Regions from separate parts of the Homo sapiens genome. Here region 1 is linked to region 2. Evidence: fine-mapped expression QTL. A gene starts in region 2. The other region holds a variant in brackets. All regions are shown on one strand. Distances are between the middles of the regions. Region 1 overlaps LOC105374016 (a long non-coding RNA gene). Region 2 holds the start of NFKBIZ (NFKB inhibitor zeta).

What was found.
Region 1: its variant is fine-mapped to the expression of NFKBIZ in prostate (GTEx, PIP 0.98).

The regions. Positions count from the first base shown.
Region 1 is chr3:102,633,201-102,649,067 of GRCh38, reverse strand. All of the region lies in intron 9 of LOC105374016 (a long non-coding RNA gene), which reads left to right. Among named protein-coding and RNA genes, the nearest start is that of ZPLD1, 210 kb to the right of the region's middle. The variant C/T (reference allele first, on the strand shown) is at 8,432.
Region 2 is chr3:101,840,700-101,856,566 of GRCh38, reverse strand. It overlaps NFKBIZ (NFKB inhibitor zeta), which reads right to left and starts at 7,053. Exons shown (of 12, transcript NM_031419.4): 1 at 6,650-7,053; 2 at 4,343-4,482; 3 at 3,799-3,829; 4 at 3,578-3,681; 5 at 2,704-3,476; 6 at 1,884-1,989; 7 at 1,359-1,505; 8 at 1,109-1,172; 9 at 665-834. The coding sequence starts at 6,938. RefSeq lists silencers at 7,155-7,326, 6,375-7,574, 13,648-13,942 and enhancers at 7,068-7,362, 7,157-7,994, 9,453-9,582.

The DNA of each region.
Region 1 (15,867 bases), 790 kb before region 2:
TCAAATGCTTCCTTAAAGCAATGGAACAGTATGATCATATTTGCCTCTTGGTGAGATTACTCTGGCCAAAACATGTACAATGGTTAAGTGAAGCCATATTAAAGATAAAACGAGTGGCTTGGAGACTTGTAATAATTGAAGCCTGATCCAAAGAGGGAGAAAAGGATGAAAGGAAGGGACTAATTTGAGAGACCTGTAGGAGGAAAAATGGACAAATAACAATGAGGCTAAATCAGATGGATTTATTTATTTGTTTTGCACTTGGTGTGGGCACTTTCCAAGTCCCTCAGGATTGTTAAGGCAGACTTTATACAGGAACCTCACAATAGGTATAGGAACCACAGCAATGGAATTTTGCACTGAGAGAGAGAGAGACCAGACTCAACTTCAAATATAGCACAGTCAAGTTGGAATTTGTAGCCAAGTAGCAGGGTGGGGGTTAGTGGATGTGAAATTACTAAGAGGAAACATGAGAGGCAAGGGAGATTCTGGCTAAACCAACCTAACAGGATTCTTGCTGAAGACAGACCAGGATGATCCATTGGGTGATGGGGGAGGATAAAGAATTTGATTAGACATTGAGTGTGATCAGATAATCGGGGATAAAGGATTCTAACTAAACTAAGCAAAGTTATTTGCTAAAACTAGATTTTTTAAGGAAATGCACAGGTGGGCTTAGGAGAAGATTCAGGTGCCTGACTAAAGTTTGACCAAGCAAAGAATCCTTGTCAGGATACAACTAAATTGAACAGACACGGAACTTAGGGTCTAGCAGGATAGACTGAACATTAAACAAGCTTTTACTATGAAATGCAAGTACTATTATAGGGTAATATGGGTTGCTACTGCAGCAGACTACAGAGTCTCCAATCCTAGAAGGGAGTTCAGGGAATATTTTCCAGGGAAAAGAAAATCTAAACTGAGACTTAAGAAAGGCTGCAGTGAAGAGGGGTATAGGGGAGACTTGCAGAAAGAGAGGAGAGCACTTGAAAAGACCTTGATGTGAGAAATTGCTCAATAAGAGAGAGAACCTAAAAGAAAAGTGTGCAGAGATAAGGACAGGCAAGAGAGGTAAGCATATGCATCAATTTAAAAAACAATAAAAATTCATTAAAAAGGCAGGAAACAACAGGTGCTGGAGAGGATGTGGAGAATTAGGAACACTTTTACACTGTTGGTGGGACTGTAAACTAGTTCAACCATTGTGGAAGTCAGTGTGGCGATTCTTCAGGGATCTAGAACTAGAAATACCATTTGACCCAGCCATCCCATTACTGGGTATATACCCAAAGGATTATAAATCATGCTGCTATAAAGACACATGCACACGTATGTTTATTGCGGCACTATTCACAATAGCAAAGACTTGGAACCAACCCAAATGTCCAACAATGATAGACTGGATTAAGAAAATGTGGCACATATACACCATGGAATACTATGCAGCCATAAAAAATGAACAGTTCGTGTCCTTTGTAGGGACATGGATGAAACTGGAAACCATCATTCTCAGCAAACTATCACAAGGACAAAAAACCAAACACCGCATGTTCTCACTCATAGTTGGGAATTGAACAGTGAGAACACATGGACACAGGAAGGGGAACATCACACTCTGGGGACTGTTGTGGGGTGGGGGGAGGGGGGAGGGATAGCATTAGGAGATATACCTAATGCTAAATGACAAGTTAATGGGTGCAGCACACCAACATGGCACATGTATACATATGTAAAAAATCTGCACATTGTGCACATGTACCCTAAAACTTAAAGTATAATAATAAAATAAAATAAAATAAAATATATATATAACATAAATTAATGTATTTAATATATTACATTAATTTTATAATATGTAGTAAATATACATTAATAAAAAAATTAAAAATGAATTGCATAATCTCTCCGAGAGAGAGAGAGAGAGAGAGAGGTCAGTAGAGGCCAGAACATGGAGGGTCTCAAGGCAATGTTAAGAAGTTCTGCATTCATCTGAAAGGCAATGCTGAGCCACTGAAACATTTGTAAGCACAGGAATGGTATGTATATTGGTATTTTTAGGAAATCATCCTTGATGTGAGAACTCATTGCAGGAAGGGGCCAGCTCTAGTGTTTACTATGTCATGGTACTCATCACATTTTGCTCAGTTGTATCAAAAACTGTTCCTCCAACTATACTAGATACTTCGTTAAGGCAGAAAAATGTCTTTGTTGTTTATTATTGTTTTCCTAGGCAGATGCTTAATAATTATTAAATGAAATTAAATGAAATTTAAAAGAATAATAAATTTAATAATAAATTTAAAAATAAATTTAATAAGAATAATAAATTTAAAAACAAATTTAATAAGAACAATAAATTTAAAAGAATAAATGAATGAGGTGCAATTAGTATGGCATTATAGGAGACCACAAAGATAATGTGGATTTCTTGACAGGAGTAGGCGTAGCAGAAATAAAGGTAACTGAACACATTCAAGAGATATTTAGAAGTAAAATTGACAGGTCATTGAAAGAGATGGGAATAAATTTATGAAAAGGCAAGAATAGTCTCTAGCTTCCTGCCTCATAAAATTAGGATGATAACAATACCATTGTCAATTGTCTCTCCTTAGCCATCTAACTTTATTTCTCATACTGCTTCGACCCGCAGCTTCATGCTCTTCATCATTTCCACCCAAATCATTCCCGAAACTGCATTGCAAATCACAATTAGCAGTTGCCACCAGATTGTAATCAGTTTCCCTTGAGCTCCTTAAAATCAGACTTAAAACTCACATTTTCCAAAAATTTAAACAAAGAAAAAAGTTATGACAAAATTAGAGAAAGATTTGTAAGCAAGGGTAAGAAGGGAAAACACAGCTGAAGCTCAAATGAAAAATGAGACAAAATTGAATGGCCTTCACCGTTAAACATTATCATTGAGAATATATGATGTATAAGACACTAGATAGAGATAATTTAATAATTGCATTATGTTATTTCAAAGATAGGGCACTTATGTCCCATAATGCATAGGTGTATAAAGAATATAAAGCAATATATAATAAGTGCCAAATGAGACGTACAGAGAGAAAGGTTTATATGAAGTCACGATGTAAACACTCTTGTGTACTGAAACACAGGGCAAATTGAAGAAAAGACCTAGGAAGCCCCAGATGTCCTAAATCTCTTCTCAATAGGGCTTTGGATCTCTGCTAACAACTATGTCAATTGCTGTTGAGTGGATTTTCCATCAGGATAATATGATGCACTCCAAGTTCAGTGTTTTTGCTCCAACCTGCAGCTGGCAATATTCCTGAGCAGGCATAGCTAATACCCAACAGCTGAATGTATTTGGATTGTTATTCAAAAATATTCATGGTGCCAAATGTGAGAAGCACTGATATTCATGCTACTCATAAAATGAGCAAATAAGTTATTTAATTTTTCTAGCCCTTATAATCTCAGCACTCTCATATCCTCTTTGCCAAAAAAAAAAAAAAAGGTGCTATCTGGAGACATGGGATAAAATCAGAACCTGTCATCAGGCATACAGAAATTAGACTATTGCCATTAATATTTCTCTCTCAGTTTGACATGTTCACCTTAATGAAAATACCCAAACAGGAAGCAGTTCTCTTCTTAGCTCCTGGAAAAATAGAATGCAAGTTAAAAGCTCCTAATGCTTTTAACATGATTTGTCCACTTTGGACAGTCTAAGGTGTAATGGGAGAAGAAATAAGGAAAAACGAGAGAGATGAAAAAATTGAGAGAAAAAGGAAGAGCAGGAGGCAAAGAAATGACATAATGATTTTTTAAAATCATTTTTGCTGGTAGTAGCCAAAAATGGAAATGTAAAAAGAAAAAAAGCAAGATACCTAAGAAATAAGCCATACTACATGTCTGCATATCTCTTTTACATATGAAACCTCTGTGTGTTTGTGCATATGTGTGTGTGTGTGTGTGTGCATGTGTGTGTTTTGCTGGCAAGATTGGTGTTATTTTTTAGTGTTAATGGAGAAATGGCCAACAACTGTTTCTTCCTGCCAAAGATATTCTCCAAGCAGCAAATTAAATATATATAGAAGAAATGAGAACTAAATGTGCCTTTTAAACAAGAATTCCAGAAAGGGGAAGGGAGATAGGTTAGCAAAAATACACAAATCAAAAACTAACACAGAAATGAGATGGAATAGAAAAAGGAAGGATACACTTAAGTGATACTGGGAGATCCAAATGTCCTGAAGGGAAACAGAATTTAAAATGTAAGAATGTAGGAATTCAAGAGAGAAATATGGGATATAATAACTATATGGAGGTGTGGTCTTTGATAGCTAGATGTCTTCATGTATTTTATTGCTACTTTTTTATAGCAAAGTTTTTATCAATTTAAAATGAACAAGGAACCATAATCAGACTAGCTTTTGCTAATTAAAAGATAAGAGTTTTTCAGCTTATCTTCCATAAGACACTGCAAGCCAAACCCTGTTACAATTATGGAAACTTACTGAGATCTCCCACTCTTATAGCCACCTTGTGGGTCTTTATAGTAAGATGTGGTGGGTAAAGCAATAAGAGAGGCTTATTGGAGAAGCATGGGTAAAAGGGAGTAGTTGACTCAGTTTCCAAAGCAAACTTGAACCAAAACAACTGAGTTAACACATTAACATAAAACTGCCTGTGCATGTCTGTTTATAAAGTCAGAAAAATCAGCAAGTATCTCATTCTCTCTGATTTTTGCATGGCAAAGATAGCTTGTGTTCGGCTCCCTTTAAAACTATAAAACATGCAATTAACAATGGAAATCTGTCAGAAAAATAGGTGTTTTCCACATCAAAGCTGTATTTGAAGAAGTATGGTAGGATGGGATGGAAGGAGGAGGTGAATAAAACTAAATTTGAAGTCCAGTTCTTTTCTTATTCATTGTATGACTTTTGAGTGATTACTTAACTTTTCTGAGACTTGTTTTCCCCTCTTACAAAATTAAGACAATAATACCTATTTAGCAAGAGTGTTTTAACACATGAGTGCATGTAGTCTGTTGATTTAATGCATACTTTTGGAGCACCTTCTATGGGCAAACTGTCAATACTTGTGAAAACATGTATTGATGGTTCAGGGTTGAACAAGCAGAAATGGTCCCTAACCTCATGAAACATTCTATGACAATATAATAAATACATAGATGCCCGATAAATTCCAGCTAATATATTATCTTTTGAAGACGTAAGACATGCACTCAGAGTGAGAGGAATCCCACATACACACCATAAACTACCATCTGCAGGTAGATGGATTTTTACTAAATGGAAAACAAATGTAGATGATTTGGTGTAAATTGTGCTGTTTTGACAGATGTACAGACAAGATTGAGAGTAAGAAAACTGGCTGATGAAAGAGGTATATGAGAAAAATATGTCTGACTTTATATGTATGTATGTGGCTTCTGTAAAAACCCATCGCGATTGCCCTGTTACATATTCAGCAAGATTTCCTAAATTGAAGAAGCAGGTACAGGTTGTGTTTCTGCTCCCCTATGGACTCACTGTGAGTATCAAGAGAAGTTTCAGCTTAATAAAAACAAAATCGAATTTCTCTCTAGGCTGGTGAATAGGTAGCGTTATTTTAGCCCACTGTAGCAGCAGAAAATTGACTTGATCTCACAGTCCATGCTCATCACAGCGCTAAGTCTGGGGAAAATTTCTTCTCCCATCAGGTAACTACAGAAGCTGCCAAAAATAAGAACTTTGAAATTGAGGCTTGTCTTACTTTTGTTTTCAGAAGTCTCTGGCATTTAACTCCAGCTTCTTGGGATGCTGTTTTGCTAGTAGGTAATGCCTCAGAGTAATTATTTCACCCAGAAGAAGAGCCTTTGCAGAAACCCTAAGTAAATGCTGCAAAGCTTGCTTCCTTCATTTCCAAGATTCTGTTTAGGATGTTGTTATTACAGTGACAGATTTGTTGAGCTGGCCTCAAGTTCCAGAGGCCATCTCTAAGTTGAGGCATTAGAGGAGTTCCCAAGAAACCATTGCTCAATTTTGAAGAAATTAAAAGTATGATTAGTTTAGAAATCTCTCGGACAGCAGCAGCCCTATCTCCATACAGGCCAGCAATTGCAAGAGCCCAAATGGAATTTCTTACTGATATTTCAAGAGCATGTCAGCATCTCTATGGTATTTTGAAAAAATAAAACGAAGAAAGTTCAGGGAACAAAGGCTGAATAACTCTTTCCTTGGGAGATGAAATAAAGAAAAGTAGAATGGAGTAAAGGAGGCAAGGAGAATGAGGAAAGTTCTTTACAAGAATATATTTCTACAATAATCAAAAGAGTCTCTTCTTTGATTTTTTGGACAAAGAATCTATTTATGGACAGAAGATATATTTGTATCCAATTCAGTAAATGATACACCAAAGAGAAAAGAGTAGTCAATACTGTTTATTGGAGTTTTGGTGATTTTTATTTTCTTATTTTGCCTTTGATACATTCTCTTTGTACTAAAATAGTATTATGTCTAAGTTGGGTAAATAAGTATGTAGGTTTTAAAATAAGACAAAAAGATAGTCATGATGAATGTGTTTTGTTCCATGACCACTGTCAGGTCTTTCTCCTCAGTCAGCCCCTTGTGATGTAATTCTTTACACCTAGCCCACTAACTCCACATTAAATTCAGGACCTTATTATCTCTACCAATGAAGGAGGCAGAGCTGCAAGTCACAGAAAACACTAAACAAGTATAATAAAAAGGGGAGTAATTTATATAGTAGCAGGATAAGGGCTATGTCTTAGAACACAAAACCAAGAAAAGCAATAGACCTGAAAAGGGATTAGAACCAATAACTGGAACCAAAGTTATACTCTCAACCTGTCTAGGTTTGTTGGTCTCTCATCTCTGCTTCTTTCTATGTATGCTTCATTCACTCTTTCTAAAGTGTCGTCTACTTTTCTGTTCACATAGTGGAAGGTTGGCAGACTCTTCCAACTGGTTCTATTATGCCTCATAGTGGACATATGGGATAAATAGAGAGGGTATGATGGCAATTTCAAGCACTGGCCCCTGTTCATTAGGCAGTCGTCCATCAGCATACAAGGGGGTTGGTTCCAGAACCAGCTCAATATACCAAAACCTAGGAATACGCAAGTCCTACAGTTGTCCCTGCAGACCCTCTGTATATAAAAAGTTGGCCCTCTGTATACATGGGTTTTGCATCCAGTGAATGTCACAGTTTCCATCCAAGTTTTGTAGAAAAAATTCCGTGTATAAGTGGATCCACACATGTTACTCAAGGGTCAACTGTACCTGGATTTTTATTTCTTTCTGTGACAGTAAATTCTCTTCTGATGTCTCCAGGTAGAAATCTTATAGGTTCTACTGCTCTGTGATACGTTACCACCATGAAGTAGTCAAATTTGTTCATTCCTTCTAGGCTTCTTTGGCTGAGAAAAAACTTGAACTAGGACACCCATTTTCAATGTTCGAAGGTAATGAACCCTAAAGATTCATCCTTCCACTCTCCAAAATGGCCATTTTACCTCTTTCCATATTGGGTCCTTGACAAAATATTTTTAAAAAATTAAAAAATGAAAACAAAATAGCCATTTTTGCAACACCTATTTCTTGTCTTCTATTAAAATGTCTAACACTTCTTCAGACATCACTTAAAACATAAAGTCAGATGACAGCCATCTCTTATTCCCACCACCAAACAGCACTGTTCATTTACATATATTTCTGTCTTACCTCGTGTTACAATGAATGAAATTTCTATACGTTTTATCTCATGCCAAACCCTCCATTTACACTCTGTTGAGCACTTTATACATGACTAATCCAAATTGATATTGCTGTAAGCATAAAATTTATGCCAAATTTCAAAGACTTAATATACAAACAGTAAAAAAACTCAATAATTTTATAATAATACATGTTGAAATGAGAATATTTTGGATATCTAAGGTTAAATTTAAAATTTTAAAATTAATTTTACCTGTTTCTTTTTATGCTTTTAATGTGGCTACTAGAAAATTTTAAATTACTTATGTGGCTCACATTATACTTTTTTTTTAACAGTGCTGCTCCAGATCCTATCCTTTCTTTCCTACTCAGGGTCTTCTGTTCTGCCATTATTTACCCGCTTCCAGCAACATCAGTTTCTGTCTCACTCCTGAATCATTCCCATGATAATGGGAATATATTTACAGGAATATATTTCTACAATAGTCAAAAGAATCATTCCCATCAGAATGCAAATTTACTTTTCTTTATTGTACCTTTAAAATAAGAACTTTCTTGGATTTTTCTCTGCATTTCTCTTCAACTCTTCAGTAAAAAAAATTCTTCAAAATATTTATTTGTCTGTAATTACTACCTATATTTCTCTCCTAAAGATCCCTCAAGTTGGGCTTCAATTTCTTTATTCAGGTCACTATGGCATCGATATTGTCTAGTTACAT[C/T]ATCAGTTTTATCTTCTCTTCTTACTCAGCCTCTTGGCAATACTTGACAAGATTGACCACTCACTCCTTGAAATAAATTTTTTCCTGGTCTTCTCTGACTGTACAGTGTCTTTTTGTGACTTCTCCCTTTGTTCCTGACTATAAACACTTCAGTTACTGAAAGCACAATCCTAGACACCCTCATTTATTTTCACTCACTTAAATGTTTTCATCCAGTTCTTCCTTTGGCTTTTAATATTATCTATTTGCTGCTGACTCCAAATCTATTTCTGTACCCAAAATGTGTCCATCCATGAGCCCCAAACCCATAAATCCAGTTGCCTCTTCCACATTTACTCTTGCCAATAGGCATTCCAAGTCCTGAACAACTATACCCATCCTTCAGATCTGCCTTTCCTTCATGCAGGTTGAGTACTCCCAATCCTAATCTGAAAATCTTAAATCCAAAACATTCCAAAGCCAAAACTTTGTCAGTGTGGATATAATGCTCAAAGAAAATAAATGCTCATTTTGGATTTTGGATTTTAAAATTAGAAATGCATAACTGTAAGTATAATGTAAATGTTCCAAAATCCAAATAAATTCAAAATCCAAACCACTTCTGGTCCCAAGTATTTCAAATAGGGGATACTCAACCTGTAATTTCTAATCTCAATCTATGACACCATTGTCTACACAGATGCTCAGGCCACAAACCTAAATGCCATCAGTCACTTCCCTGTCCTTCCCCTGCACCTCCAGTCTGTTCTCCTGGTCACTTTTCAGCATTCACATTGTAGCCCAAGCCACTCTCATGTGTCCTAGAACATCATAAAACCTAGTTCCTTCCTTGGCCCACTTCATTTATTCTTCCTCAAGGCATATAAAGTGTCTTTTTAATATTAAGCTCAAATGAGTTCAGATTACTCCTCTGTTTACAATTTGCAATCACAACTGACATAAAATCCAAATGCCTTAATATGGTTTATAAGGCTATATATGATCTGAATTTTGTAATGTCCCTGAGCTCATTATTCACAATGCTCATCATCTTTTGCTGGACTCTAGCTTTCTGGATTTTTTTCCTGCCCCTTGAACACACCAAACATTTCCTGTCTCAGGGTCTTCACATTTGCTGTTTCTTCTCCTTTTCCCAAATTTGTGCACAGTTGGTCCTTTCTTATTATATGGGCCTCAGCTCAGTTATCCCATTACAAGGGAGAGCCTCCTTGACCATTATAGATAACTCGTACTATCCTTCCACCTTCACAATCACTTCTTTCTATTACTTTATTTCCTTCAAAGAATATATGTTTCTGAAATATTCTGTTAGAATAAAATCTCTGTGAAGAGAAACTTATTTTGTTCACTATTATATCCTCTATGCCCAAAAGAATGCTAAGAATCCATTAAATTCTCAAAAGAAGACAGATCAATGAAGATATTAATTAATAAATGAATGAATGATACAATGAACAGAGGCCAAAAAACAATGAACTGCTCTAGAATTTGTTCTCATGATATGCAGGGAATGCCAGACCCTCAAGGTTCATACTGAATTCTAATCACTGAAGGTGATTTACATTGGGAAATGTTATCAACTCTGTTGAGCATGAAATATACACAAGAAGAACATAGAATGTAATAACCTGGTAAAATTGGGGTCCTCCATCACATCCAGCTTCTCCCTCATACCATTCCAAAAGTCAGAATCCTACTCTTTGCTAACCTATGTAGCTTGGCCACAGATGTGCAAAGGGTCAGAGAATTCAGCAGCTGCAATTAAACACAACGTTTACCTAATTTCTTAATCTGAATTTCAGCAATTTCAGAATTTAAGACATCTCAGACACAGATAGGGATTTTCACAGGACATTTTCATATTTGAAATGTTATATTCTTCTTTGGGTTCATAAATCTTTCCTTTAAAACTCTTTTCTTAAAGAATCAGTGTTAGTGTGTGCCAAGAAAATACAAGGGCCAGTTTATTGTTTCATCGTCGACAAGTAAGACTATCCCTCTGCTTCAAATGATGACATTTTCACTATCCTTAATATTCTACAATTTTTCCCAGGGGTCTATTACTTCCCACTGACTGATAAATGTCTGTCAAGTTACCATTTGATAGTAAGGCACACAAACTCATTTAACTTAAACAAACTGTAAAATGCATCAGAAGAATACCAGAGACATAGCCAAACCTCTCAAAGAGTAGAATCAGTTGAGAACCAAATTCGTTTCTTCACCTCTCTATTTCTCTCTGTAAATCTAGTTATCCTTCTCTCTCTTTCAATAGTGGCTATTTCTCTGATTCTTCATTAACACAGCAGAGACTGACTATATAAGTTTCCTGTTTCCTGCTTTTTATCATCTGGTAATTGAAGTCCTAACAAAAACTCAATCAATTATAAGTTCAAATTTAAAAGTCCTGGTAAGAGAAGTGTATTGTCTTAGCTTGGCTCATGAGAATACCTGTGGTCCAATGGTTACATTTTGGGGTCACCTGATCCACTGACTATATAGCTGTTGCTCTGAGTATAGGCTTTCTGAGAAGAGGGCAAATGTAGGTTTTTTAAGAAGGTAGCGTGGAGGCAGGGAGACGGTGAAGAGTAAAATTCTTTGCACGTCTGGTACAATACCAAAAATGGAAGAAAACCTAGCTTCCATTGACTGCTCATTGCTTCCCTAGAACACTTTGATAATCAGGGACTATGTATTATTTATACTTGCCCATTGAATCCCCAGCACTAAATACTGTGCATTACATACAGGAACCTACATAAATGTAGGTTTAATAAATAAATGGTGAAAAGCAATTTTCACACAAGAAATAATATAGAAATAATTTTCAAATAGAAAAATCATAATCCAGAAGAGAAGAAGAATCATGGAGCTGTGTATTAAAGAAAGGATAAACATTTACTAGAGATTGAGATTTGAGAGCAGAATCTTGCAGAGATATTATATTAGAGAAATAAGATGTATATTCAAAGTGTGTAAATAATCCTTGAATTCTTAAACAGGCAATCTTGACTTTATTAATTAAGGAATAGAAAGCCATTGTGGGAGCTAATGCAATTGCTACTATTACAATCTTCCAATTGTTCTCTAAGATACCACACTCATCTCTCCAGTCTAAGAGAATATCAGTATAACAATGATAATAGATGTGTTCGAGACGGGCAAAATATCCTAATGGAATGTGGAAGATGCTAGGGATAAGTTTCACAATTTTGGCATTAATACCTTCCATCTGTACAGCTTTTCAACTTTATCCACAATGCTTTCATATATTTTCCTTTTTATCTTAAGCATAAGATTACTAATAGAAAGTTTATACTCTACATTAATAGGAGAAGTAATGCTGCATTTTTGTTAACAGAGCAGAGATATTTACAATTGCATTTATAATTGGATGGCACTGAGAGAGCTCAAAGTAAGCTGTGGGCTTTCTGGGATATTTATACATATCACAGAGGAAGGTAAAATGAACAGCCAATTGTTGGCTTCTCAAGCAAATGAAACCATGATAAACCAACACTTAGAGATGTGCTTGCCTCTTAAAAATGTAACTCAGATCTTTTAAATCTATTTGGTGTACTAGCAATTTTGTTTGATTTGAAAAGGAGTATTAAAATGAAATGGATGCCCTTGATTTCTCTACTTTCGGTGGTGAATCTGTTTAGATTGTGAATGGCACAATTCCTTCCATTCAAATCTCTCAAGTTGAGTTCCATTATTTATAACAGTTAAATGTTTTACACTTAATGCATTTTCAGTAAAACTTTACTGATATTTTTCCATTTTACCCTTACAATCATTCTTCATAAAATGTAAGTCAGACAAAAATATATTGTTCAATCACAAAACAGGTATTATGGAAACAAGTTTAAAAACACATTCTTTGCCCCTAACTCATTTCTGGGAGAAACAGCCATGTTATCACAAAGTCATCATAGAATACAATGAGAATTAAAGTTAGTAAAGGGTATTCTGGGAGCTCCTAATACACACTTAGAGGTTATTGTCCACTGGAGAAGATAATGCTCAACCTGGTTTCTTAATGTTAAAATCAAGATACCCGGGTCAAGAGAATAAGCGAGGCTCTTGGGAAAGATGGGGCATTAGAAAGCTCCATGTAAATATGGTTCCTATCTTACAAGTTATCAATAGACGAATTTAAGCCCAGTTAATCAAGGATAAGATAACATTTCCTCTATTTGACCTATGTGCTTTCATGTATCTTACACTATACCTCTTATACAAAAAGATTTTGTGATTAAAAAAGAATGGAAGATTGAAATTATATGATGACTATAAACTACAGAGTTCATTAAAATCGGACTGGAAATGAATATCTGTGGCCCTTATTGTATTTTGATATCATGCTTATCAGTGTTTAAGCACTGTATGTGAATTGTCTCATTTAATTTCACAAAAAAATTAAGGGATATACATTATTATGGTCATTCTATAGATGATACAATTGACGCAGAGAGAGGTTAAGACACTTGCCAAAGACTGCACAGCTAATAAATCAGCAGGATTAGTATTTAAATGCAGTCAGTTTAACTCCAGTATCTGTTCACTTTGATACATGATATGATTCCCAGCCTCATCTTAACACTGATTTAACTAGTTTTGTGAAAGGTATATGTAATAGGCTGATTTTTAATGGTATGCCATTTGTGGTTTTTCTACGTATTTTATGTTGTCAGATAATAATGCAAGTGTGTGTTCGTATTTGAAGAGTTGCCAGAGCAATAATTTCTGAAATAAGAGAAGACTACATACAGAAAGGGCATACATACGCCTGCAAAAATAGAGCCCAAATGAGCAACTCTGAGACCAAACTAAGTAAAATTGTTAGTCTTTAAAATAAAGGAAGACATTCTTTAAACACACAGGAAAAAAAAATTAAGTTACTTATAAGGAAAAATGTTGGATTTGTATTAGAGTTTTCAACAAAAATATTTTTACTGAAGTAAATGTAAGTCAAATATTTTATATCCAGTCAACCTGTCCTTCAGGTATAAAGACCATAGACATTTATTAACTTGCAAGCAATATCTCAAGACTGTTGATTCCAGGAATCTTACCAGAGAAATTTAATAGAAAATAGGCTGCAGGCAACCCCAGAATAATTTCAGAAAATCAACTGAAGATTTGTGTTTGAGCATTAAATGTTTTTAACTCTGACACAAGTATTAGAAGTTGTGTATAAGTATGAAAAAATAATATTAGGAAATAAATGCTCTCACAACGCAGAAAAATATAAGTAATAAAAATGGGAGGAGAAGAGAGAAAAAAGTTTGCAGTAGATAAACCTTGCAGATTGATTTATAGGTATTATTGGAGAGTGAAAGTTGATTACTTAAAGCTAACAAACAAGTACAATATGTTTAGGTACATTTAATGTCACTAATATTAAAGAAAAAATAATACTGGGATATCATAAATGATACAGAAAACCTAAGAAGTATACATAATAGTAAGCTGCATAAATACATTTAACTGTGATTCTTGATTATTTAAAAAATCACTTTTTCCCCAAAGAACATGTAATTATTATGTAAAAATACCCAGTATTAGCTTAAAAGGAGACAGTAACTTTTTCAAGAAAATAGAATCCATGCAAATAGGATTATCTGACCACAATGTAATAAAATTGGAAATTATAACTAAATCAAACAAAAGACTTCTACCTATATATATTTTTAAATACTCTATTAAGCACAATACAAAATTGCCAAATTTCTACAAAATCATAATAATAAAAACATGACATATTAGAATCTGTGGAATACAGATAAAGCAGTACTCAGAGGAAAATTTATACCTTGATACATTTATATCAATAAAGTACAATAAACATAAGTTAACCATATATAATTTCTAAAGCTATTGATTTGCTTATGTCAGTAGAATTATGTATTAATAATCACATCAGTAAAAATGAAGAAAGTCAAACATACAAGTGTAAAATGTACTAATATCCTGATGTAGAAACAAATTTTGTACTTCAATGAAAATCTAAGCATTTCTCATAGTATACCAACTGGGTCTGTCTGATTCTAGTGCTGTTAATTGTTTTTGAGGTATTTTTCACCTTTTTCTAAACTGTAGGTAATTTAAAGGAAAACAGATCATTATACCAAAAATATACATGTACTAGTATGTCACTGCCATGCTCTTCACGATAGCAAAGTCATGGAATCAACTTAGGTACCCATCAATAGTGAACTGGATAAAGAAAATGTGATCTATATACACCATAGAATACTATGCAGCCATAAAAAGGAAATGAAATAATGTCCTTTGCAGTAACATGAATGGAGCTGGCGGCCATAACACTAAGCAGATTAACAAGAGAAAAGAAAATCAAATACTGCATGTTCTCACTTATACGTGGGAAGTAAAGACTGAGCACACATGGACATAAACATGGGAACAACGGACACTATGGGCTGCTAGAGGGCTTAGGGAAGGAGGGCGACATGGATTGGTAAACTACCTATTGGGAACTATGCTCACTACCTCAGTGCAATATGCCCATATGACATACCTGCACATGCACCCCCTGTATCTAAAATAAAATTTGAATTAAAAAAAATTGCAGGTAATTGATAGGTAAACAAACTCTATCTTGCAAGTTAAAATTTTGATTGATATTTCTCCACACTGTGAAGAAAAATTGTCTCCTCGTTTGTAATTTATCTCAATATTCCTTTACTCCATACAAATTTCTGAAATTTTGATTTTTCCATTTAACCGTTTATAACAGCTGTGGTCCCCTCATTGATTAATAAAAGTAAAATATTTTACACATGTGTATTATTCTATCTCTATAAGAGTTACGACTTTACCTTTTTCTTCAAATTATCTTTTGCCACTTATCATAGTAAAATTATGTACTGTCAATAAAATGATAAAATAATATCAACACAATAACAAAATTAAACATTGAATTTCAAAATTTAGATATGAAGTTCATAAAAGGACAAAATAATAATTATAAAATAATAAGTTAAAAAATAATAAATAAATAAAAAGCTGATTTTTTTGAAAAAGACAAACCAAACAGCCAATATAATAAAAATAAAGATTGGAGTACATTGGGAAGAAAGTACAAATATACAAAAAACAAAATTGCAAGGAAGAAACAGCAATTGAAACAGAAAAATTTATAAGCAAAGGATTGTCTTGCATAAAATATGTTAATACATTGGAAACATTGATAAACGGATAAATTTATAGCAAAAGCATAAGGATGTCTGATTGTCTTTAAAATTATTTTCACAAAAATATCAACAGAATTCTTTTCTGAAGATAGAGAAGTTGATTATGAAGTTAATCTGAAAAAAAAAGTAAAGATAGCAAGAAAGCTGCGAAGGTTAATACTGAATGTCAACTTGATTGGATTGAAGGATGCAAAGTATTGATCCTGGGTGTGTCTC
Region 2 (15,867 bases):
TTCCACATCCTACAACAATGAAGAAATCCTTACAAAAAGCACCTTTATTCTCAGTGTATGAAAATGGAAGCCAAAATGACAATATCAATTTCAAGCATTTTCTTTACCTTTCAAAGACTATTTATTTTATACCTAAATGACCTTTTGGATAATAATTCATGGATTTAAAGCAAATCAAGAAAACACATGAAATGATCTGTTAAAATCTGGGCTTCTTGGCCGGGCGCGGTGGCTCACGCCTGTAATCCCAGCACTTCGGGAGGCCGAGGCGGGCAGATCACGAGGTCAGGAGATCGAGACCATCCTGGCTAACATGGTGAAACCCCGTCTCTACTAAAAATACAAAAAATTAGCTGGGTGTGGTGGTAGGCACCTGTAGTCCCAGCTACTGGGCAGGCTGAGGCAGGAGAATCGCTTGAACCAGGGAGTCGGAGGTTGCAGTGAGCCAAGATCGCACCACTGCATTCCAGCCTGGGCGACACAGTGAGACTCTGTCTCAAAAAAAAAAAAAATTCTGGGCTTCTTAACCACCCATACATTGCTACTCACACCATTAATTTCAGAAAAAAAAGAAAGAAGTTTGAATCTGTACTTGGAAGCAAGGTCTTTTGCTATATAACCAGTTTCTCCCCTACCCCATCTTAAACCTTTTCTGTGAATTTACCTTCGCTTCCACCGCTGCTCCCATTTGAATTAGGCACTTAATGGTATCAACCAGACTCTTATTCTTCAGTAAAAGCTCCTGAACTTCAGGTGAATGAGGCTGTTGATTTCTCTGGAGTTCATGGACCACAGCATTGTGGGCTATGACTGCACAGTGAAGGGGAGTCAGGCCTAGAAGAAAAGTATAATCAAGCAGTGGTCAAGCATCCCATCAGGTCTTTTGGTCCTTCTATAATGACAAATGCTGAGGATGGCCTCTAACTTAACCTATAAATGGGCTCCACAAGAACTAGTAAGGCAATCTGAATATTGTCTCTTTTTGGGTCTAATTTTACCTACAGAATATTTTAGCTTTAATTACCTTCCTTCTTAGTATACTTAGCACCCTTAGACCTTATGGTTCCCCCTAAGTGGCTCTGAATCTAATAAAGTTTCAGTTGCTTACCATCATAGTTAGTTGCCTCAAGATCCACAAACTGATTACTTCCCACTGCTCCCTTCTGAATCGCCTGCAGATTTTAAAAACAGACATCTGTTAGCTACATAAGCTGCGCATATACCTATTAGAATCCCCAAGAAATGAATAAGTTAACTCAAAATAGATCATTGCAACAGGCAACCTATATCCGACTTCTAATATCCAACTCTATCTCTCTGGCCTTGCAATGATGGAAGCCTGGTTTGCTGCCTCTTACCTGAAGCACCTGGGAGTGGCCCTTCTCAGCACACACATGCAGAGGTGTTCTTCCCCAGCAGTCTGTGGTGTTCACCTGTGCCCCGATGTTCACCAGATCCTGCACAATGAGATGCTGATTGGCAGCCACTGCCACCTGAAAGGCACTCTGTGGATATCCAGAGGAAAAAAGATATTTTAAACATACAATGTTATCATAACAAGGAATATGAAACTAAACTATGACTGAGGGAAAAACCCACAGAGAGAAAATAAATCCTTTGAATAAGCAATCAGATACTGTAAGACAAGGAAACTAAAGTAAGCCTAGGGTGTGGCTTTATTACTCTCAGTGTTTGGTCAAACAGCTACAAAGTTAACATTAATAACTTCAAGGTTGATGGTAGCAAAAAGTCAACATCTCAAAGTTAATATTAACTAAACTCTCTTGATCTTGAGCTCTAAGATGATCTACACATAAGGCTGGTCATCATTCACTTCACCATGACCCCCTCTTTGCCATTTCAGACTCTGTCAAGGTCCTCACCTGTCCATTGTGCTCTTTAATATCCAGCATGTGAAGTGCATTCATCTTTCTTGCAAGAACATAGGAAAGTGCCCTTCTCCCTTGGGCAACAGCAATATGAAGGAACCTGGGGAACATGGAAAGGAAAGCGGGTGAATCACTTCTGATTTCACTAAGTTGTTCTTTTGAAAAAAAAAAAAAAATCTTCCTTTAGCCCCCTTTTTATATATTGGTACACTCAAATGAAACATTACAAAGCATAATTTGTCTTTTCTGCTACATTGATAATACACCCCAGTTGGAACAGGATGGGTTAGGCTATCAGAAATAAGAAAAAGAAGAATGTCAAGCACCATACTGATCAACTTAAATCTATTATTTTTAATACTCATAAAACCCCTATACAAGAGGTATTATCATTTTACACGTCAAGGAACTGAGACCTAAGGAGGTTAAATAACTTGCCCAAGGCCACAAAGACATCAGGACAGATTAAGATCAATCTACAAACCAACTCACAGTTTATCCCTAATCATGATCTAACTGTTTCTGTTCTATAGACATAGTCTACGCTGGTCTTCCAAACTCAATTAATCAAGAAGATACAGATATTTTTATCAATTTAGAACAGATTATCTGTTCAGCCAAAAAATTTTTTGAAGGAAAACCCTTTCTTGACATACTAGCTATCACTGAGTGGCGGTTTCTATCTACACCAGTCATCTTGGTTAGCCAACCACTAACTAAGGTATACCTTGTTATACCCTAGAAAAATTATATGCTCACTAGTCCAACAAGTGTGGCTTACCTAATTAAGAACATGAGATAAAAGAATACTCACGTGTCACCATCTGCATCCTTTGAAAGAAACTGGTCTTGGGAAATATTTGCCAATTTGCTTTCTTCCTGCTCCACCTGCCACTGAAAAAGTGATTTCCCTAACTGTGTGGTGTTCATTGGATTTCCCATGTTTGAGAATGGCAGTGAAGTGTTTGAAGAGTCAGAGGCCATCTCGTGCCCCACCATGGCCTCACAGGCGCTGCTGGGCATCATGCTGAAGCTGTGCAAGTGAGCATCATTTTGCTGCTGAACACTGGAGGAAGTCTGCATGGGATTAGCAATATTCTCAGATTCCCTTTGATCACCAAGAAGGGAAACTAAGCTTTGGTTTGGGCAAAACTGTGATTCTGGACCATCAAAGAGGTTTGGTTCATAAGCGGGGGACTGGGGAGGTATGGGAAAAGGACTGTATTCCAGAGTTGGTTTGTGGGTGTAGTGTGGCTGCTGCTCTACATGCTGGTTCTGTGGAGAATACTGGTACAGGGAAGCCTGGTCTATCATTTGTTGGGAGCCCCTGACTTGGAATGGTTGGCATTTCTGAGGTGGAGAAAAGACCTGCCCTCCATGGAAGTCCTGACACTGCTCTGCGGGGGAGCTCTGAGGGACCACCACGGGGTTCAGCCAGCTAACTTGAACTGTGTTCAGGGAAACGGGGCTGCATTCATTCTTAATGTTGATAATGTTCTGAAGCAGATCAGCACTGCTCTCCTGTTTGGGTTCATTGAGATGAACATCTTCCATGCTCTCCCCGGGCGTTGGTGTTTGAGGTGGTGTCTGGAAAGAAGGAAAATGCAACTTGCACACTCACTTCCTTCTAAAATTATCCCAGGAATAATTTCCAAAGGATAGTCAGAGGAAAATGGTGAGATACTTACCAAAAATTGGGAATGCAACAGAGCTGGCCTTTTGCAAGCAGGTCCATCAGACAACGAATCGGGCCCTTTCCTTTTCCCACTGTATGATACTGTGTTCTTCAATTCTGTACCCAAAGGAATACAGCCTCTGTCATCATTTTATTTTATAAATGTTACCCATAATTACACTCTATTATTTACTCCAAAGCCCTGAAAAAATTACAAATACAAGTAACTCTTACCTCTGAACTGTTCTATGTTCACACCTTGTGTCTATAAAGAAAAAAGTTTCCAATTTAGTGTATACAAAATGACTTCCTCTTAATATACATCAGTAAGTAGGCTTATCTCTACCACCCTTTATAGCTTACCATAAATCTCTGATATGGTTTTTCTATCAATATTGATTTTCTATATCAATTTTTATTCTATCTTGCGACTTCCTCATTTTCACTTTCACCTTAGCTCAACGCAGGTCAAGATGAAATTAATAAGACCATTTGATTTTTCCCTTTCTAGTTAAAATGTTCCATTTCAGTTGAGCCTCTGAACTTGCCTTCATTTATTTATTCATTGAGTTTCTCTTGCCCACCTACCAGGTGTCTGGCACTGGGCTAAGGAGGATACAACAGACCAGACAAATATGGTCTCTGTCCTATGGACTTTGTCATCTTATGAAAAATTTCAAGTGACTTACTTGATGACTGGACCTAGGTCATCATAATAACCCTGACAGACTAACCCCTCTCCCCAACTCTATACTCAAAACAGAAAAATAGATGTCACCTTAAAATCATCCACAGCTTGGCCAGAAGCCTTCTGTTTATGACTTCGGATGTGCAACAGGAGTTCCTTCACTGAGTTCTTTACCCGAACACCTTGAAAGGGGCCTCTCTGCTGCCTGCCAACCCCCATATGGGGCTCAACTGTTCAAAAGAAAACAAAACATATTCCTGGTTAAATATCTTCACAGACATAAACGTTAATAATCCCAAAAGTATAGCTGTTGCCTAATGTATAAAGTCCCCAAGCAGCACATTGCAAAACCTTTCCAACTTGCTCTGGTCAATCAATGGCCTTGTGAGTCCCGAGCTCTGCTCAAAGGTCCTAAGTTGCCTGATACCTTTCTCCACTGGGTACCCTAAGAAATTAAAGTTCATAAAAATTTGGTCAAGGATCCTCAGAGCCAATAGGTAAACCCAAATTAAGCCTCTCTATCTCTCAGCTCTAACCACCCATGAGAGTGGATCACATTTTTTTCTCAGCCCTAACCACCCATGAGAATGGATGACAGATTTTGCCATCCTGACTCTCATAGTTCTATAATTATTCTTGACTTTGGAAAAACTTTGGGGAGCAAGTGATAAATGATGCACTTTTAGCTTTTTAAACCAATGGTTTTATGTTCACATAGAAATTTTAAAGTCTATCAATTCCGCTTACCTAAGAAGGCACAAAACAACTTCTTTCAAAGATCTCTATGTACGAAAACCTGACAATTAACAACGTCTTAGATTTATGTCTTATTATTTCCTTCAATTCAACTGTGCCAAAAAAGCTGCTTAAATTCACTGAGCTTAAACACATTTCTACATATGCACACAGGATTTCCCCTCATTGACTGTTTTTGGAATTACTTACACAGGTCTTCTAAGTAAAAAGGAAATATGCTTGTTTCACTTTTAAACTTTGAAATACACTTTAGCATTTGGTATACAAGTACAGTACTCCACTTCTGATCACTATTATGTCACAACCTCTTAGTATGTGTGTTGAACACAAATTCACAAAGTCAGGAAATGAATAATTCAGCCGCTCCATCAAGTGTACAAAAATAAGATGGGGCAAGAAACAACGCATAATTTGAACATCTGTATCTATCATAAATACATGAGATAAACAGTTCAATGATAGGGTAAGTGAAACATTAGTTGGCTTTATTTTTAAGTTTAGGGATTTCAAGAGATACCAGAATTGCCAGAATCTAACACAGCATTTTTCTGGAATGACAGCAGTTCATAATCCAACGTCACAGAAAGAAAAAAATGCAGTTTCAGAAATCCCCTGTGGCTGTGTGGTAAACCAAGGGACCAGCAGAACAGTTTCAGCCAGATGAAGGCCAAGTGGGTAAGAAAAGGTCCTAAACACATATTCTTTCTGGATCTGCTACGCAGTGGTTTAAATCGCTTTTCGCATGATTTTAAATGACTTAAAATGAAAATGAGATATCACTTTTTAAAATAAATGACAACCAAAACAGGAGTGGCTAAGAGTGGGAAACACCGGAAAGAGACGTTCTTTAAAATCATGCTAATTACTCTCAACGTTCAATTATCGAGGCGTTTTTCTAGCCTACCCACAGGGGCATCCTGTTTTCCCCCAAATTATGCAACTCGGTTCACTAAGAAAGGAAACCAATTCGCAGCCCATGAAAGATAACATTACGTCTTTCTCTGCTAGATATGGCTTATCCATTTTTTTTAAGGCACACACAACAAAAACAAGACCGCAAAAATTCCGGGCAGACTTCCGAAACTCGCCAAACTAAAGGCATAACTTGAGTTGGTTTTCAGCCCGGCTTCACCTTGATAACAGCAGTTTCCTTTTCTTTGACGGTCAAGTCTTTTTACTGAAAAATTCCATAAAAACTGAGAAATAAGTCATGACCTTTAACGCTATTCCCAAACCCTTATCCTCTGCTACAGCTTTCCACTAAAATATTCACAAGAAGAAAATTACACCTACATCAGACCCCAAATCTCATCATAGTTTATTAATTATGACTCAACAAAGCTGCTTCTTAGAGAGCGAGCGATCTCCTGGTCACTCGCCCGGCAGTCAGAGCTCGGCCGAGCGGTTTCTGAAGCCCCCCCGAGGCCCGCGGGAGGGAGCCGGTTCCGCGGGCCGGCGAAGGGCGTGTAGGTCAGGCAGGCGCCCGGCCCGGGCAAGGCGGGGAGTGGTAATTGATGGCTAAGGTGCGTACGTCCTAGCTCTAAGGAGGGCGCAGGGGCCACCCTCCATCTGGGGAGTCCCGCTCCCAACCTCCTAGGCGTGCGCGCCCCGAGTACGCAGCGGTGCGGGGCCGGCGGGTACCTGGCTGGCGCTCGGCGCGGGCGCCGCCTCTCGACCGGGACTCCACGGCGCCGCAGGAGGACACCGACGAGGCAGAGGAGAAGTCGGAGGAGTCGGAGCCGGGCGAGCCGGGCGCCGAGGGGCCCAAGACCGAGCAGCTGGCGTCGCAGGCGCCCGGGGCGGCGGCGGGCGGCGACGCGCCGTAGAAGTAGCTCAGGTTGAGCGGGCTGGTCATGAGGCCGCAGCCGCCCGCCGCGTCCCGCAGCCCCTCTCCGCCGCGGCTGTCGTCCAGCAGCTTGTCCACAATCATGCTCCCAGGCTGGGCGCTCGAGGACCCCGACACCTGCGCCACCGGCTCGCTGCGCGCGGCTGCCTCCCGGGCTGGCTCAGGGAGCTGTCGGCGGGCGGACGGCGCGGGCCAGTACGGGCGCGGCGCGGGACTGCCAGGGTATTTAACGGGCCGCAGCGCTCGCCGACCTCCCCGGCGCCCGGCCCGGCCATTGGCGGTGCCCGGGCCGCCTCCCAGCCCCTCCTCCGGATGCGTCCGATTTCCAGTAAAATGTACAGGATGAGGCAATGCGCCCTCCGCCCTCCGCCCTCGCCCCGCCCGCCCGGCTCCGCCCAGACCGACCGGTTGTTTGCCTGCCCTTCACCGGGAAACCCCGACAGCGCGCGGCTTCCAGCCTCCCGCTTCCCGCCTCCCGCCTCCCGCCTCCCGCCTCCGGGACCCCGTCCCTCGCCCGGGCCATCCCTGCCCTCTAGGCCCCCGCCGGGCCTGGGCGCCCGGGGAGAGGGCGCGCGGCGCAGGGCTGGGCCTGCAGAGGGAGGCGGGAGTCAGTGGAGGGAACCGGTTGGCCTGGTTCTTGGGGACTGGCAAGTCCTGGAAGGAGCGCGCCCCGCACCCCTCTGCCTGCCCCGGCGCGGCGAGCTGTTAGCCCAGTTAAGGCATCTCTGGAAGGTTCTTAAGGGCCTGTCTCCTCCGGCGCCCCAGCGTAGCCTCCCTTCTCAAACATAGCGTTTGTCGACGGTTTTAGGCAACATCCCGAACTGAAAGAGATGTTGGAGCATTTTTATGTTCTCAAATTATCTGCTGGGACGCAAATAATGTTTTAGGTGCAGCCATGAATAAAAAGTAATGCCACACTTCTGTATCCTTCAATACTAGAACAAAGCCATCTTAGCAAAATAATACACAAACATGTAGGTGCTGTAGTATATGTAGATATAACTTTTAAAATTCTGCATAGCTTTACACTATCTGATAAACTAACACAGTAATTTTGGCCTTTCCTATCTTGAATACTTTTTTCCAATGGATTTATACAACTATTTGTTCAAGTCCAACTAGCAAAAAATGCGGGAATGATAAGGTTAAGTACACACATGCTATGTTTAAATAAACCGATTATGATTAAATAACACGAGGGATACAAAGTTCAGTGAGCCACCTAAAAGGAGAAACAACAGGTCTGGTAGAGGAAAAAGGAGGTCAGGAGGAAAATCTTTGCAGGGGTGGTGGCATTTAAGATAGGTCCTAAAGGATGGGTGGGATTGGGGCCCACAGCATTTACAGAAAGAACAAGAGCAAAGAATTAAGGAGAGGGTTCATATTAGAGTGTATAGTCCCCTTTTACGATTGTCAAGAGGAGAAGATGGCATTAAATATAAAAGATAACTTGGTGCCTTTGGGTGGAGCACCTCCAGCAGCTGAGACACTGGAATTTTATTTAATAAACATTGAGAAAACATGAATTTTAGGTAGGCAAAATTAATCTGCAAGCAGTTGAGAGAAGATGAGGAGCCCAGAGGCCATTAGGATCCACTGCAGTAGCCCAGGAGAGAAATGACTGGGCACTGGGGCAGATACAGTGGGAAAGGAGAAAGTAAATTGACAGAAAGCAGAGCTGGGCAGCATTGCTAGGGCAGAACCCACAGGTCTCGCTCTTTTGGAGGGGGGGAGAAATGAAAGGGTCCCCAGTCAGGCCATGGCTTGGAGCCACGACCAGGTGAACAGGGCCACCAGCTCCAGATCACAAGGGATCACAGAGCAGAATGTTTGGGTTTTAGGACGAAGGGGGGGACACGATGAGTTTGGATTGTTACTCAGTATTAGTAGGTGGCATAAGACCCTGGTGGGGGTAGGTCCAAAGTAAATACAGCCATACCCCACAAAATGATGTTTAAGTCAATAATGAACTCCATGTACAATGGTGGTCCTGTAAGACTGTAATACCATATTTTTACTGTTTCTTTTCTATGTTTCCATATGTTTAGATAGACAAATACCTCTGTGTTACAGTTGCCTACAGTATTCAGTACAGTAACATGCTGTGCAGGTTTATAGACCAGGAGCAATAGACTATACCACAGAGCCTAGGTGACTAGCAGGCTAGACTATCTAGGTTTGTGCAAGTGCATTCCATAATGTTCAAACAACGACAAAATCACTTAACGACACATTTCTCAGAATGTAGCATCGTTAAGCAATGCATGACTGTATTTCCTTGTTTCTCACAAGTGTATTTCCCTAAAACTTCTTGCTGCCTCTCCCTCCAACTTTTTGATAACTTTAAAAAATAAAAAAGAAAACAAATCCCTTGGTTTATCTGTGGAAAACACAAGACTTCAGTAATTGCAATTCCTTGGAAACCAAAATCATTTAAAAGATGCTCCAAATAAGATGTTGAGTGTGATGGTTAATTTGATGTGTCAATTCGACTGGATTAAGGCATGCCCAGGCAGCTGGTACAACATCATTTTGGGGTATGTCTGTGAGAGTGTTTCTGGCAGATATTTGCATTTGAATCAGTAGACAGAGTAAAGTAAGATCCCCCTTCGCCAATGCGGGCAGGCATTCTGCAATCCACTGAGGGCCAGAATAGAACAAAAAGCCTGAAGCTATCTTCTTGAGCTGGGACATCCATCCTTTCCTACCCTTAGACATCAGCACTCCTGGTTCTTGGGCCTTCAGACTCTGACTAGGACTTACACCACCAGCTCACCTGGTTCTCAGGCCTTCAGGCTTGACCTAGAACTGCATCACCAGCTCTTCTGGTTCTTCAGCTTATGGATGGCAGATGGTGGGACTTGTTGGCCTGCATAATTGTGTGAGCCAATCCTTCATAATAAATCTCTTTCTACATATTTATATGTACCCTATTGGTTCTGTTTCTCTGGAGAACCCTAATACATTAGAGTTTCTCAATAAAATCTATTTGAATTTTGTTTTCTACCCACCAATATTTTATGTATAATAAAGGATTTAAATGCCCATTCAAATAAATCCGTAGAAAGTAATTTTTTACAAAATTAATTATCCTCCTGTTTTAATTAATTATCTTCCCATTTTACATGAGATATGAAAATTCAAGCCACAAATTCATGGCCTCTGGAGAACTTAATCTAGACCAAGATGGTCAACAAAAGACTAATGTTTCAAAACGAAGTTTTCTGTGCAATGCCAAAGCAATAGTACTGTTTGACAAGACCACAACCCCCAATGCCCAGAAGCCCTCCCATACACATCAAAAACAGTTAATATCGCTACAAAAAAATTTAAATGTACTTTGCTTTATGTAAATGTTGAAATACAAATTCAGTTTGATCTATTAAGTCGAATGATAGGATGCTGCCATTGTTCTAATCAAATATGGTTGAACACTCATGCTGTGGGAGACAGCCACCATGTTACGAGGACACTGTCTGGAAAAGTCAACTGAGGCCAACAGCCAGCACCAATATGCCCGCCATGTGAGTGAGCTACTTTGAAAGTAGATTCTCCAGCTGCACATCGGGCCTTCAGATGACTGCAGCTCTGGCCAACATCTTGACTATAGTCTTACGAGACACTTTGAACCAGAACCCTCAAAAACACTCAAGAGATTTCTGATGCACAAAAACTGTATACGAAATATGGGGCCTTGAGAATTTGTCCAGTTACACTGCTCCATCGAAAGCAAAGAAGAGATTGAAATCTTCATCTAACTGACTCTGAAGCCTCATCTTTTGCTTTAAAAAACGAGATTAGAGGATTCATTTACTCCAGGCTCAGAGGTACTGTCTACATCTAAAGATACTGAAAAAGATGAAATGATACATCAGAGAGTTCTGTGACAACTCATAGAGGGGAGAAATCTAATCCAAAGCTACTGGAAGAAACTGTAAAGAAGAAATAAAAATATGAGAACGCTATCTTTCCCCAGGCTTTATAAATGTTAATAATTTACCTTATTGTATCTTATGCAATAGAACATTTTTTAGTTTTATGGTGTCAATTAACATTGTAACACTATCTTGAGACCAATAATCCAGAGTTTCAAAAAAGGAATTGAGGGCTGGGCTGGGTGCAGTGGCTCACGCCTGTAATCCCAGCAATTTGGGAGGCCATGGCAGGAAGTATTGCTTGAGCCCAGAAGTTCAAGACCAGTCTGGGCAATATAATGAGACCCCATCTCTACATAAAATAAAAAATTTAAAAATTAGCTGGGCATGGTGGCACATGCCTGTGGTCCCAGCTACTTGGGAGGCCGAAGTGGGAGGATCACTTGAGCCCAAGAAGTCAAGGCTGCAGTAGGCTATGATCATACAACTGCACTCCAGCCTGGGTGACAGAGCAAGACCTTGTCTCAAAAAAAAAAAAAAAAAGGAATTGGATTTTTTTTTTCTTTTTTTGAGACAGAGTCTCGCTCTGTCACCCAGGCTGGACTGCAGTGGCACGATCTTGGATCACCACAAGCTCCGCCTCCCGGGTTCACGCCATTCTCCTGCCTTAGCCTCCCGAGTAGCTGGGACTACAGGTGCCCGCCACCACGCCCGGCTAATTTTTTGTATTTTTAATAGAGACGGGGTTTCACCGTGTCAGCCAGGATGGTCTCAATCTCCTGATCTCATGATCCCCCACTCCTCAGCCTCCCAAAGTGCTGAGATTACAGGCGTGAGCCACCGTGCCCGGCCAGAATTGGATTTTTAAGTGTAGATGTAATGAACTTTTGAAAAGCCAAAGACAATTTGGAACAGCTTTTCAAACTTGAGATGAAAAAGCCAGTATCTTACAGGATAAGTTATTGTACTGCTTTGGCTGAAGAAATGAACATCATAGGTGAAAGACCAATAAAGCCTGGTAGAGTTTATTTTGCTGAATATTTTCTAGATGAAAAGTCAGCAAAAGAAATCACAGCACTGCCACTTTGCAACAATGCAGCAGCTCACTGAATTAAAGACTTAACTGCAAACTGGTTTTGTCTGCAAAATTGCACTTTTGCCTTAGAAATGGATAGATCTATGGACTGTCTGGACTTGCTATTTCGGTTATATTCATTTCCAGCACCGGCCAGTCATCAAAGGTGTTTTATTTTAATGCATGACAACAAACACAAGGAATGCTGAAACATTCAAAATGTACAATAACTTTTCGAATCTCATCATTTATCCTGAAACAATTGTGTTTACATTTGAAATGATGGTACAAAAGCAATGGGTATAACTAATGGTGCCTTAAAACAAATCAAGGCAGCAGCAACAAAATGAACTAGTAATCATTGTATTCTTCACCACTGTCTACTTGCAGAAAGAAAAAGAATAAAAGCCAGTTTCACCTAAAAAGTCCTGGATGAAGCAGTAACAATATTAATTGACTCTTGTATACATCATTTTAATATTTTATGTGGCAAGATGGGAAATATGCATAGAAGTTTGTGCTGCATCCTGAAATATGACAATTGTCTCAAGGAAATGCACTTGTCTATTAGCTTGAACAGTATGTCATTGCCATTTGTTCTAATCAAATACTGTTTGAGTTGTGAGCTGAACTGCCCTCTGTTTTTCATGGAACACCAATTATACTTGACTGACAAACTGTTTCAGACTCAGGTATTTGTCAGTTTTTGGTTTGGTTTGGTTTTGTGTTTTAATGAACAAAGTGAGCCTGTCATGTTAAGGAAAATAACAGTATTTGTTGCCAATAATAAAATTCAAGTTTTTCAATAAAAATTACAATTTTGGGAAACTTCTGTTGGACACCTTGAGCTTGATAGCTTCCTAGTTCTAGAAGACTTTTTTGATGAGCCCAGTGATGATGCGCTATTAACAAATGTGATTTTTTTATATTATATAATGAAATGTGGCAACATTTAGAAAATTTGCATAACTCAATTAACTAATAATTTCCAAATGAACAATGCAAGACATTATAAAATCACACATGGGTGAAAGAGCCATTCAAAGTGGCCAATGGATTTTAATGTATCAGAAGATGTGGCCAATGGATTTTAATGCATCAGAAGATAAAAAGTTCATTGATATGGTTTCAGGTTCCATCTTGCATCTCTCCTTTAAGGAACTACCACTTGTTTTGGTATAATATTAAATTAGAATATCCAAATTACCTGAAAAGACTATTAAGCTATTTCTTCCTTTACCAACTACATTTGTGTATGAGACCAGATTTTCTTTATACTTTCACCAACATAAGATATTGTGACACATGTTTCTTTTTTAAGAGACAGGGTTTCACTCTGTCACTCAGGCTGGAGTGCAATGGCATGATTATAGCTCATTGTAACCTCTAACTCCTGGGCTCAGTCTCTCCTCCCACCTCAGTCTCCCCAGTAGCTAGGACTACAGGCATGCCCCACCAGGCCTGGCTAATTTTTTTTATTTTTCATGTTTTGTAGAGATGGGGTCTGGCTGTGTTGCCTAGGCTTGTCTGGAACTCCTGGCTTCAAGTGATCCTCCCACCTCAGCCTCCCAAGTCACTAGGATTACAGGCGTAAACCCCTGCACCTGGTCAACTGCAACAAATTAAATGCAGAAGCAAATATGAAAATCTGTCTTCTGTAAAACCGGATGTTAAGAAATTTGCAAAGATGTGAAACAATACTGTTTGCATGAAGTTTTTTTTTTTTTTTTTTTTTTTTTTTTAGAAAATACAGTTTTTAAAAATAAATTAGTAAGTACAGATTTAAATAATTTTTAGGGATCGAATGTAGGCAATGTCCTATCAGTCAACTCAAAAGTTCCAGATTGGACTCATAATTGTTGAACACCTGGTTCTGAAACCCTCCTCTCTTCTCCATCTCTAATTTCCACTATCCAAGACAGGCCTTTATCTCTTACTTGATGCAAATGATCACCCATCCAGCCTTGCCCACTTAAAACCCATCCTCCAGACTGCCATCGGCATACCAATGGAATGCTGGAATGCCAGGAATTCTTCTAAGAATTCCTCCACACCAGGGGTGTTCAATCTTTTGGCTTCCCTGGGCCACACTGGAAGAAGAATTGTCTTGGGCCACACATAAAATACACTAACACTAATGGCAGCTGAAGAGCTAAAAAAAAAAAAAAAAGAAAAGAAAAGAAAATGAAAAAAGAAAAAGAAAAAACATCACAAAAGAATCTCATAATGTTTTAAGAGAGTTTATGAATTTGTGTTGGGCCACATTCAAAGCCATCCTGGGCCACATGCAGCCCATGGGCCACAGGTTGGACAAGCTTGCTCTACACTATTTAAAAATCCTTCAGTGGCTCTCTACTGCTTTTAGCATGGAGTCCAGTCTTCTTAGAATGACAGATGTCCAAGTCCTGCCTTCCTCACAAGCTTCATCTTCCTCATTACCTTCAGTAACACGAAACTGAGTATAGTTTCCCACAGCTCTGAGACTTTGCTCTTGCTGTTCTTCTCTCCTCTTCCTCAACCAAAATCTCATGCTCACTTAATACCCAACACTCACTCAAGACTCACTTAATATCCAACACTTCTGGAGCCTTTCCTGACCCTCCCTTCCTCCCCTGACCCCAACTCTCAACCCCACTTCTGGACTAAGGGCCTTTCCTCTCAGTCCCCACACAGACTTCTATCATAGCTCTTAGGATGTGCTAAAATTAACCATTTATGAGTCTGTCTCCTCTATTCCACTATAAGCTCCCAAGACATGTATCCCTTGTCAATAGCCAAGTACCTGTTACTTAGTAGGTAGTTACTTGGTACATATTTAACTGGATGGTAGAAACAAGTGGAAATGCTTCCAAAATTATTTTATGTCAATACCGTACAGACATCAAAACAAATACTTTGGCCCCTTGAATTAGAATCTCCTCATTCTCTGCACTTGGATTATTATAAAACTATTTTCATCTATCTTGTAAATATAAAAACCCAGCTGCCTTTTGCCCAGAATTCTTTGTAAAGAACATAAAATCTTTCAGGAGCTTTCAAAACAGATATCATCTTATATGTTGATTTGTTGAATGCTTTTCCTTAAAAATAATAATTTATTATCCCCATAGCAATGTAAAACATACTTCAACATCTCAAGAAACATTTAAACTTCAGGGTATTCTAACAGATTTTTCTAATGCAGATGAGTAAATCAGACCACATATTTTCAAATTCTAGTTATTCTTCAATATGGTAGTGCTTTATAAATGTCAGGTACTTTTCTAAGTACTGGGGCACAGCGGTACCTCAGACAAACACTAATCTCTGTCTTTGTGGAGCTTATACCTGGCTGTATGAACATTCTGGTCCATATGGTATCCATGTAATAGAAACAATTACTACTTCTGAGACATATGAACTCAGTTCTACTGGCACTTATATACTTCCCAATAGGCCACCTGACCAACCAGGCTATGGCACAGACAGCTGTAGTTAGTAAGTTCTGTAAGCTTTTTCCTTACAAGAGTGTAACCTATTCTTTTGTATGTTTTAATCTGGAAAGATCAAAAGGTTGTCTTTAAAAGTAATTCTCTAGGTCCTGTTTGCAGCAAATTATTAGCACCTGATATCAAAGCACAGTATACCATATTGAGGAAATTTCTCCAACCAGTAACCTAATCATCATACAGATGAATTAGCAAAAGGTTTGCACATCTCAGAACATCCTGCTCAGTGCTAAGAGAATAAACTTGATACCCCGTTAAGTACTGTATGTATAGTATGTACAACTTTGCATATTATGGACTGATTGTGTGAAGACAAAATTAATAGTGTCCCCGGAGTCATCTCTCTGCAACTTCCTTTTATATGAAAGCATCAAAGGAGATGCCATATACCACTTTGTCCTCTTCACAAATATTTTCTGAGCACCCACTAGGTGTGAGTGAGTCGTCCACTATGTAAAGTAACTCCACTGCTTTCCAGCAGGTACACAAGGTCTGTCCCCTGATGGGCAGCCAGAGAGGCACCTTGCACAAAGTCAGGTCACACAGTTGAACATCCCAATAAACAGATGCCTTAT